2 linked regions of the Homo sapiens genome follow. The protein of the gene in region 2 interacts with the protein of the main gene of each other region in a biochemical or structural test. Each region holds a gene or a part of one and is shown on either strand. Other genes may lie near its edges. The genes, in order: UBR1 and PLIN2.

Region 1 (3,820 bases), on a different chromosome or scaffold from region 2:
CCTCCTGAGTAGCTGGGAATATAGGCATGTGCCACCATGCCGAGTTAATTTTTTGCATATTTTGTAGAGACAGGGTTTAATTTAATTTAATTTATTTAAGACAGAGTCCTACTCCATCACCCAGGCTGTGGTATAGTGGTGCCATCTTGGCTCACTATAACTTCCACCTCCCAGGTTCAAGCAATTCTTGTGCCTCAGCCTCCCAAGTAGCTGGAATTACAGGTGTGTTCCACCACACCTGGCTGATTTTTGTATTTTTAGTAGAGACAGGGTTTTGCCATATGGCCAGGCTGGTCTCGAACTCCTGACCTCAAGTGATCCATCTGCCTTGGCCTCCCAAAGTGGTGGGATTACAGGCGTGAGCCACTACGCCCAGCCCGGATAAGATCTTTGAGGAGGAAAATGTGTGCATATATATACACACACACAGAGGAAAAGAGAGTGAGACAGAGATGATGAGAAAGAGAGAACAGGAATGATTGAAACGGGTGGAAAATGGAAGAATGAGGTAAGAACGTGGAAACAATAGGCAAGCACGTAGGAGGTGAGAGTAGTGTGATGGCATGGGGTATTATTTTGAGAGGGTGGTTTATTGGGTCCATGATAATGAGGACTGAGAAAAATTGGGAATCAAGAGACTTGTGAGGTAGTCTGCCAGAACTTCTGCCTTCTGTCTTCCTCGACTAGATTTTCTTCCTTAAGTCAATTTCAGAAGATACCTCTTGGCATGATACTCAGCTCTTTTCTATTGCCTGTTTATAACCTCTACCTAGGGGATTTCATCTAGTTCTGTGACTTTAAATACCATTTGTATGTATTCAGTTCCCAAATTTATATCTCTGTGTCATCTCACTTCTGAACTCCAGAATCATAAATCCAACTGCCTACTTGACATCTTCACTTGGATGTCTGGTGTTTCAAACAGTGGGAGCAATTAAGAAGTTGCTGCTGTAACCCAAGCCATAGTTGATGGTAGCTTGCACTGGAAAGGTTATCCTTGGAGATAGAGTGAAGAGGATGAATGTGAGAAAGATTTTAGAAGGATGGAAGAAGCAAAAAGACTTGCTGATAGATTAGGCATGAGGCAAAAGGTAAGGAATAGATGATATCTGCATCCTCAGTTTTTGGTTTAAGCATTCATGGCAGCGGTTGTGTTGTTTCCAGCGGTATGATCTCGGCTCATTGCAACCTCTTTGTCCCAAGTTCAAGTGATTCTCTTGCCTCAGCCTCCCGAGTAGCTGGAATTACAGGCATGCACCACCATGCCTGGCTTTTTTTTTTTTTTTTTTTTTTTTTGTGAGCCAAGGTCTCTCTCTGTCGCCAAGGCTGGAGTGCGTGGCGAGATCTCGGCTCACTGAAACCTCTACCTCCCGGGTTCAAGCGATTCTCCTGCCTCAACCTTCCAAGTAGCTGGGATTACAGGTGCCTGCCACCACGCCTGGTTAATTTTTGTATTTTTAGTAAAGAGAGGGGTTTCACCATGTTGGCCAGGTTGGTCTTGAACTCCTGACCTCAGGCAAGCCGCCCACCTCAGCCTCCCAAATTGCTGGGATTATAGGCATGAGCCACCGTGCCCAGCCAGTTTTTTTGTATTTTTAGTAGAGGTGGGGTTTCACCATATTGGCCAGCCTGGTCTCGAACTCCCGACCTCAAGTGATCCACCCACCTCGGCCTCCCCAGTTGCTGGGATTACAGATGTGAGCCATCGCACCTGGCCTTGGTTGTGTCATATATTGAGAGGAAAGACAAGATTTTAGGAGAGGAAAGGAGAAAGGCAGATCAAGAGTTTTGTTGTCCCTGTCTCAGTAGACAGCACCTCCATCATAGCTCTTGAAGACAAATAATTCTGTCTCCACCCATGTAGTCCAAGTCACTCTCTGTTGTCTTGGCTACTGCAGTGACTTCCTAACTGGTCTGTTTGCTTCCACTGTTGCCCTCTTCCTGTCCATTCTGCACAGAACAACCAGAGTAATCTTTTAAAGATTAAATGAGATCATGTCAGTCTCCTACCTAAATCCTCAGTGGCTTTCTCTTATACTTATAAACTCATTACAAGCCTTCAAGACTTTGCCTGGTCCAGCCCCTGCATCTCCACCTCATTTCCTGTTACATTCTCCTCACTCATCCTGGCCTGTTAGTACAAGCCCAAGCTGTATTTTGCTTTAGGGTCTGTGCTGTTGCTTGCTGTTTGCTTTTCCTAGAGTGTTCTTCCTCTGCTTTTTCTTAATACACACTCTGTCTAAAAGATGGGTTCCTCTTATTCTCTGTCAAAGCAACCTGTTTATTTCTCCCATTTCAATTATTACAATCTGTAATTACTGTATTGTCTTTATTTACTTAGCAAAATGTCTGTTTCTTCCTCCAGAGGGAGAGGTAAGTTCCATGAAGGGAAGGATCATGTGTGACTTGTTCATTGATGCATCTTTTTTTTTGAGACGGAGTCTCGCTCTGTCGCCAGGCTGGAGTGCGTGGTGCGATCTCGGCTCACTGCAACCTCCGCCTCCCGGATTCAAGCGATTCTCCTGCCTCAGCCTCCTGAGTAGCTGGGACTACAGGGGCATGCCACCATGCCCAGCTAATTTTTGTGTTTTTAGTAGAGACGGGGTTTCACCATGTTGGCCAGGATGGTCTCGATCTCTTGACCTCATGATCCATCTGCCTCAGCCTCCCAAACTGCTGGGATTACAGGTATGAGCCACCATGCCTGGCCACATTGATGTATCTTGGTATGTGATTGATACAGAAGACACTTAAATATTTTTAAATGAATGAATAACTGAGGATCAACATTAATGATTTATTGTAGTAAGATTAGTAGTGATTGGTGGATGGAGGTTGTAGATAGAAAAAAGGGAATGAGCCGGCATGTTAGGGTAGTGGCTAACCTTCGAGTCCAGGCTGAACAGGGAGGTAATAAAAGCCAAAACAGGAAATCTGGAGGGAATTGGTGGGATTGAGGTGTTAAAGGGCATGAGGTTGACATAAGTGGGAGGACTGAACTTTGTGGTCAGAAAGGGGCATTTTAGAATTTGAGTACATGGGGGCACATCAAGTTTTTGTGATGGTAGAGCCAGGTTAAAGGCACCTCTTGGCCTGGTGCAGTGGCTCATGCCTGTAATCCCAGCACTTTGGGAGGCCGAGGTGGGTTTATTATGAGGTCAGGAGATCGAGACCGTCCTGGCTAACATGGTGAAACCCCTTCTCAACTAAAAATACAAAAAATTAGCCGGGCATGATGGCGGGCGCCTGTAGTCCCAGCTACTCAGGAGGCTGAGGCAGGAGAATGGCGTGAACCTGGGAGGCGGAGCTTGCAGTGAGCTGAGATCACACCACTGCACTCCAGTCTGGGCGACAGAGTGAGACTCCGTCTAAAAAAAAAAAAAAGAGGCACCTCTTGTGTGTTCCTATAGCACCCTTTCTATACTCCTGTTTTATGGTTTTATGTAGCGTGTCTCAGACTGTACTCTACGTTACCTGTTTACTATGTGTCTTTCCTTCTAGACAGTGAAGTTCTTGAAGGCCTGAACTGTTGCTTGTTCACAGCTGTATCTAGTTTCTAGCACATTGCTTCAAAGTTTTTATTGAATGTATGAATGAATGAATGAATGAGAAGACACTGAGGTAGAGAGGAAGTGGGGGTAATAGAAGCTGAGAATGTTAAGAGATATTAACATTATTGAGATATAATTTACATACAATAAAATGTACCCATTTAAGGCGTTTCTTGGATAAATTTTAACAAATGTATATACTTGTGTGACTACCACCAAATCAGGTTATAGAATATTTCTGTTATTTCCCAAAGTTGTCTCCTGCTGAA
Region 2 (3,820 bases):
GAAACTGGATTGCAGTGATGCTTGCACAACTGTGTAAATTTAGACTCAAGATGAGAGTATATGTCAATGAAGCTGTTTAAGAAAGATTTAATATAAAACAGTATTTCAAGATAAAATTCCAGTTACCTAGTTCTTCCTCAGTGAGAGGGAGGTACTGTTCTACCAACAGCTCTGATTTGGTGAGTGCATTTTCTACGCCACTGCTCACGAGCTGCATCATCCGACTCCCCAAGACTGTGTTAATGCTGCCACTGACCACAGACTTGGTCTTCTCCACACTGCCAGTCACTGCCCCTTTGGTCTTGTCCATCACCCCTGTGATCGTGCTGGCCACAGAATCCTTGGCCCCAGTCACAGTAGTCGTCACAGCATCTTTTGCCCCAGTCACAGCGCCTTTGGCATTGGCAACAATCTGTAAGTAGAAAAGCAGATCCCCTGGCTGGTGAGAAAAATGAGCACAAGGACATACCTAAGGTCTTAACTAAGGCAGCACAGCTGAAGAGTTAAAGAAGGAATCTAGTCCTCTCACTCTAGCTTTAGGTCTTGGGCAAGTCACTAAGAGTTGATGAGCCTGAATTTCCCTATCAAGTATATCTGCCCTACCTGCCAATCCTTGGGAATTGCAGGAGGAGCAAATGAAGTAAACAGATATGAAATTTGTCTGTTTGCCAAGGCTGCAGTGAGCTGTGATTGTGCCACTGCACTCAGCCTGGGTGACAGAGCAAGACCCTGTCTCAAAAAAAAAAAAAAAAAAAGAGAAGAGAAAAGAAAAAAAAAGAAAAGAAAAGAAGGTAAGTTATATAGCTTATTCCAAAGTCACACAAATCCAGAGAGGAAACTGAAGATCAAACTATACCTGGCCCTCGGGGTGTTATTAGTATGCAGTTATTATACATGGCAGGGCATGGTGGCTCATGCCTGTAATGCCAGCACTTTGCAAAGCTGAGTTGGTTGGATCACCTGAGGTTAGGAGTTCGAGACCAGCCTCACCAACATGGTGAAACCCCGTCTCTACTAAATACAAAAAATTAGTTGGGCGTGGTGGCACATGCCTGTAACCCCAGCTACTTGGGAGACTGAGGCAGAAGAATCACTTGAACCCCAGAGGTGGAGGTTGCAGTGAGCCAAAATTGCACCATTACACTACAGCCTGGGCAACAAGAGCAAAACTCTGTCTCAAAAACAAACAAACAATGACAAAAAAAATTAGCTGGGTGTGGCGGGGCGTGCCTGTGAACCCAGCTACTGGGGAGGCTGAAGCAGGACAATTGCTTGAACCCAGGAGGAAGAGACAGCAGTGAGCCGAGATTGTGCCACTGCACTCCAGCCTGGGTGACAGAGCAAGACTCTGTCTCAAAAAAAAAAAAAAAAAAAAAAAAAAGAACACAAGTTACCAACATTTAAAGAAAATATCCGAAATGGAAAATAACTCTCACCATTAGCACAGTCTCAAGCAATGTAAGTGAAAAATTTAAAAGATTTGCACAAGCATTCTAAAGGCTATACACTAAACCTACCTATAGTTGTGTACCACATAATATTTTGGTCAGCGATGGACCACTATTCAATGATAGTCCCATAAGATTATAATGAACTGCCCTATAACAGGTATACTTTTTTTTTTCACTGTACCTTTTCTAGTTTAGATACACGAATACTTATCATTGTGTTACAGTAGTCAGTGTAGTCATGCTGTGCAGGTTTGTAGCCTAGAAGCAAGCAACAGGCTATATACCATATAGCCTAGGTATATAGCAGGCTATACACCATATAGCCTAGGTATATAGCAGGCTATACACCATATAGCCTAGGTATATAGCAGGCTATACACCATATAGCCTAGGTATATAGCAGGCTATACACCATATAGCCTAGGTATATAGCAGGCTACACCACAAGTCCCTAACCCCCGGGCCATGGACCATTACCAGTCCATTACCAGTCCATTACCAGTCAGAGGCGGCATTAGATTCTCATAGGAGACCTAACCCTAACCCTCTTGTGAACTGTGCACGTGCATGCTCCTTATGAGAATCTAATGATAAATATAGTGCACTTGAATCATCCCAAAAACACCACCCACCCCCTGCTGGTCCATGGAAAAACTGTCTTCCATGGAACCAGTTCCTGGTGCCATAAAGCTTGGGGACCACTGGGCTCTACCATCTAGGTTGGTGTGAGTATACTCTGTGATGTTCACACAATGGCAAAATCACCTAATGTGCATTTCTCAAAATATATTCCCATCACTAAGTGACAGATGACTGTATTTAGATTATGAAAAGACACAGAGCTATATTTTTCCCTAACTGGTATCCTTTTGTGCCATTCTGTATTCTTAATTTGAAACAAAATTTTAGGACATTATCTGAACCAAAGGATCACCAGGACAGACAAGCCTATCATTTTTGTCAACACTGGCTAGCTATCCCATATGGATGGTAGTTCCTGGCAGCATTGTACAAGCCAGGTGAGAAAAGGTTATATATATCACGTCTGCATTTATTTAATACCACAAGACAATCAGTTACTTGAGACAGCAATTTCATTTATAGGAGCAAAGACACAAACTGATAGACAACACACTAAAAGTTTTCTAATCCAAAGGAGGCTAGTTCTTCTCTGCTTCGTAGATACAACTTGACAACAGTTCAGGAAGTAAGGAAGTGGCCATTATTTTTCAAACATACATCCAGATCCAGGTTGGGAAAACAAGTATTTGCCTGTTTGTGATATGTACAGCTTGTTTTAACAGATAGAAGATGAAAACATGTGAAGTGTCAAGTCTCAGCACTTTTGTCCCAAGCTCACCTGAGTTGATGGCTGATTCAGAATAGGCAGTCTCTCCTCAATCCTGTCTAGCCCCTTACAGGCATAGGTATTGGCAACTGCAACTAGAATCACAAATGGGAAAATGTTAATGTAGTACTATAGGTATAGAATGAACACACATTACCATAGGCCTTATAAAAAATGGCAATAATGGGCTGGGCACGGTGGCTCACGCCTGTAATCCCAGCACTTTGGGAGGCTGAGGCAGGCGGATCACGAGGTCAAGAGATCGAGACCATCCTGGCCAACATGGTGAAACCCCGTCTCTACTAAAAATACAAAAATTAGCTGGGCGTGATGGTGTGCGCCTGTAGTCCCAGCTACTCAGGAGGCTGAGGCAGGAGAATCGCTTGAACTCAGGAAGCAGGGGTTCCAGTGAGCCAAGATGCATCATTGCACTCCAGCCTGGGTGACAGAGCAAGACTCCATCTCAAAAAAAAAAAAAAAGGCAAGAATGTTGATCTTATACAACAGAAGGCATTGCCTGGTTTATCTAGTTCTGACAGGAAGAGGCCTGGCAAGTTGCTGGCAACTCTCTTCTAAAGGTAAGGAAATATGGGGGTGTGAGGGAGGAGCAGGCAGAGGCAGTGACAGGCCAAACAGGAAGCTGGCTCTGAAGCTTCTTCCTTATCAACTGGCCCCTAATGTTAATGCCAAGAGTAGCCGGGCTTTCCCTGAACTGTCATTCAGAGAATAAGGTATCTGGAAACTCTCTCAAAATCGGCATTCCCATGCTAGTTTAATCCCTACCTACGCTTACTTCAGCACAGGTCAGTGTATTTGGGGTCCTCAGGAGGAAAGAGTATGCCAAGACCACCCTGGATCTCCCTAACAAGGGAGATTTTAGTGTGAGCTTCCCACTAAGAATACCAAACCAAGTACTAGTACCAAATTCATTTAGGAAGTAGCAGAGTTGGAATGGCTGGTCTCTAAAGGCTCCTTATAATCCTAAAAGTCCCTGGCTTAACCATTTGAAAGAATGATTTAA

What was found.
Region 1: the proteins of PLIN2 (region 2) and UBR1 form a complex in vitro, tested with the Homo sapiens proteins (one study listed by BioGRID).

What each region holds. Positions count from the first base shown.
Region 1 is NC_000015.10:43,099,445-43,103,264, reverse strand, and holds part of UBR1 (E3 ubiquitin-protein ligase UBR1), read left to right. Parts: intron 1-3,820. UniProt on the Homo sapiens protein: E3 ubiquitin-protein ligase which is a component of the N-end rule pathway. Recognizes and binds proteins bearing specific N-terminal residues that are destabilizing according to the N-end rule, leading to their ubiquitination and subsequent degradation.
Region 2 is NC_000009.12:19,120,754-19,124,573, forward strand, and holds part of PLIN2 (perilipin-2), read right to left. Parts: intron 2,895-3,820; coding exon 2,812-2,894; intron 413-2,811; coding exon 127-412; intron 1-126. UniProt on the Homo sapiens protein: Structural component of lipid droplets, which is required for the formation and maintenance of lipid storage droplets.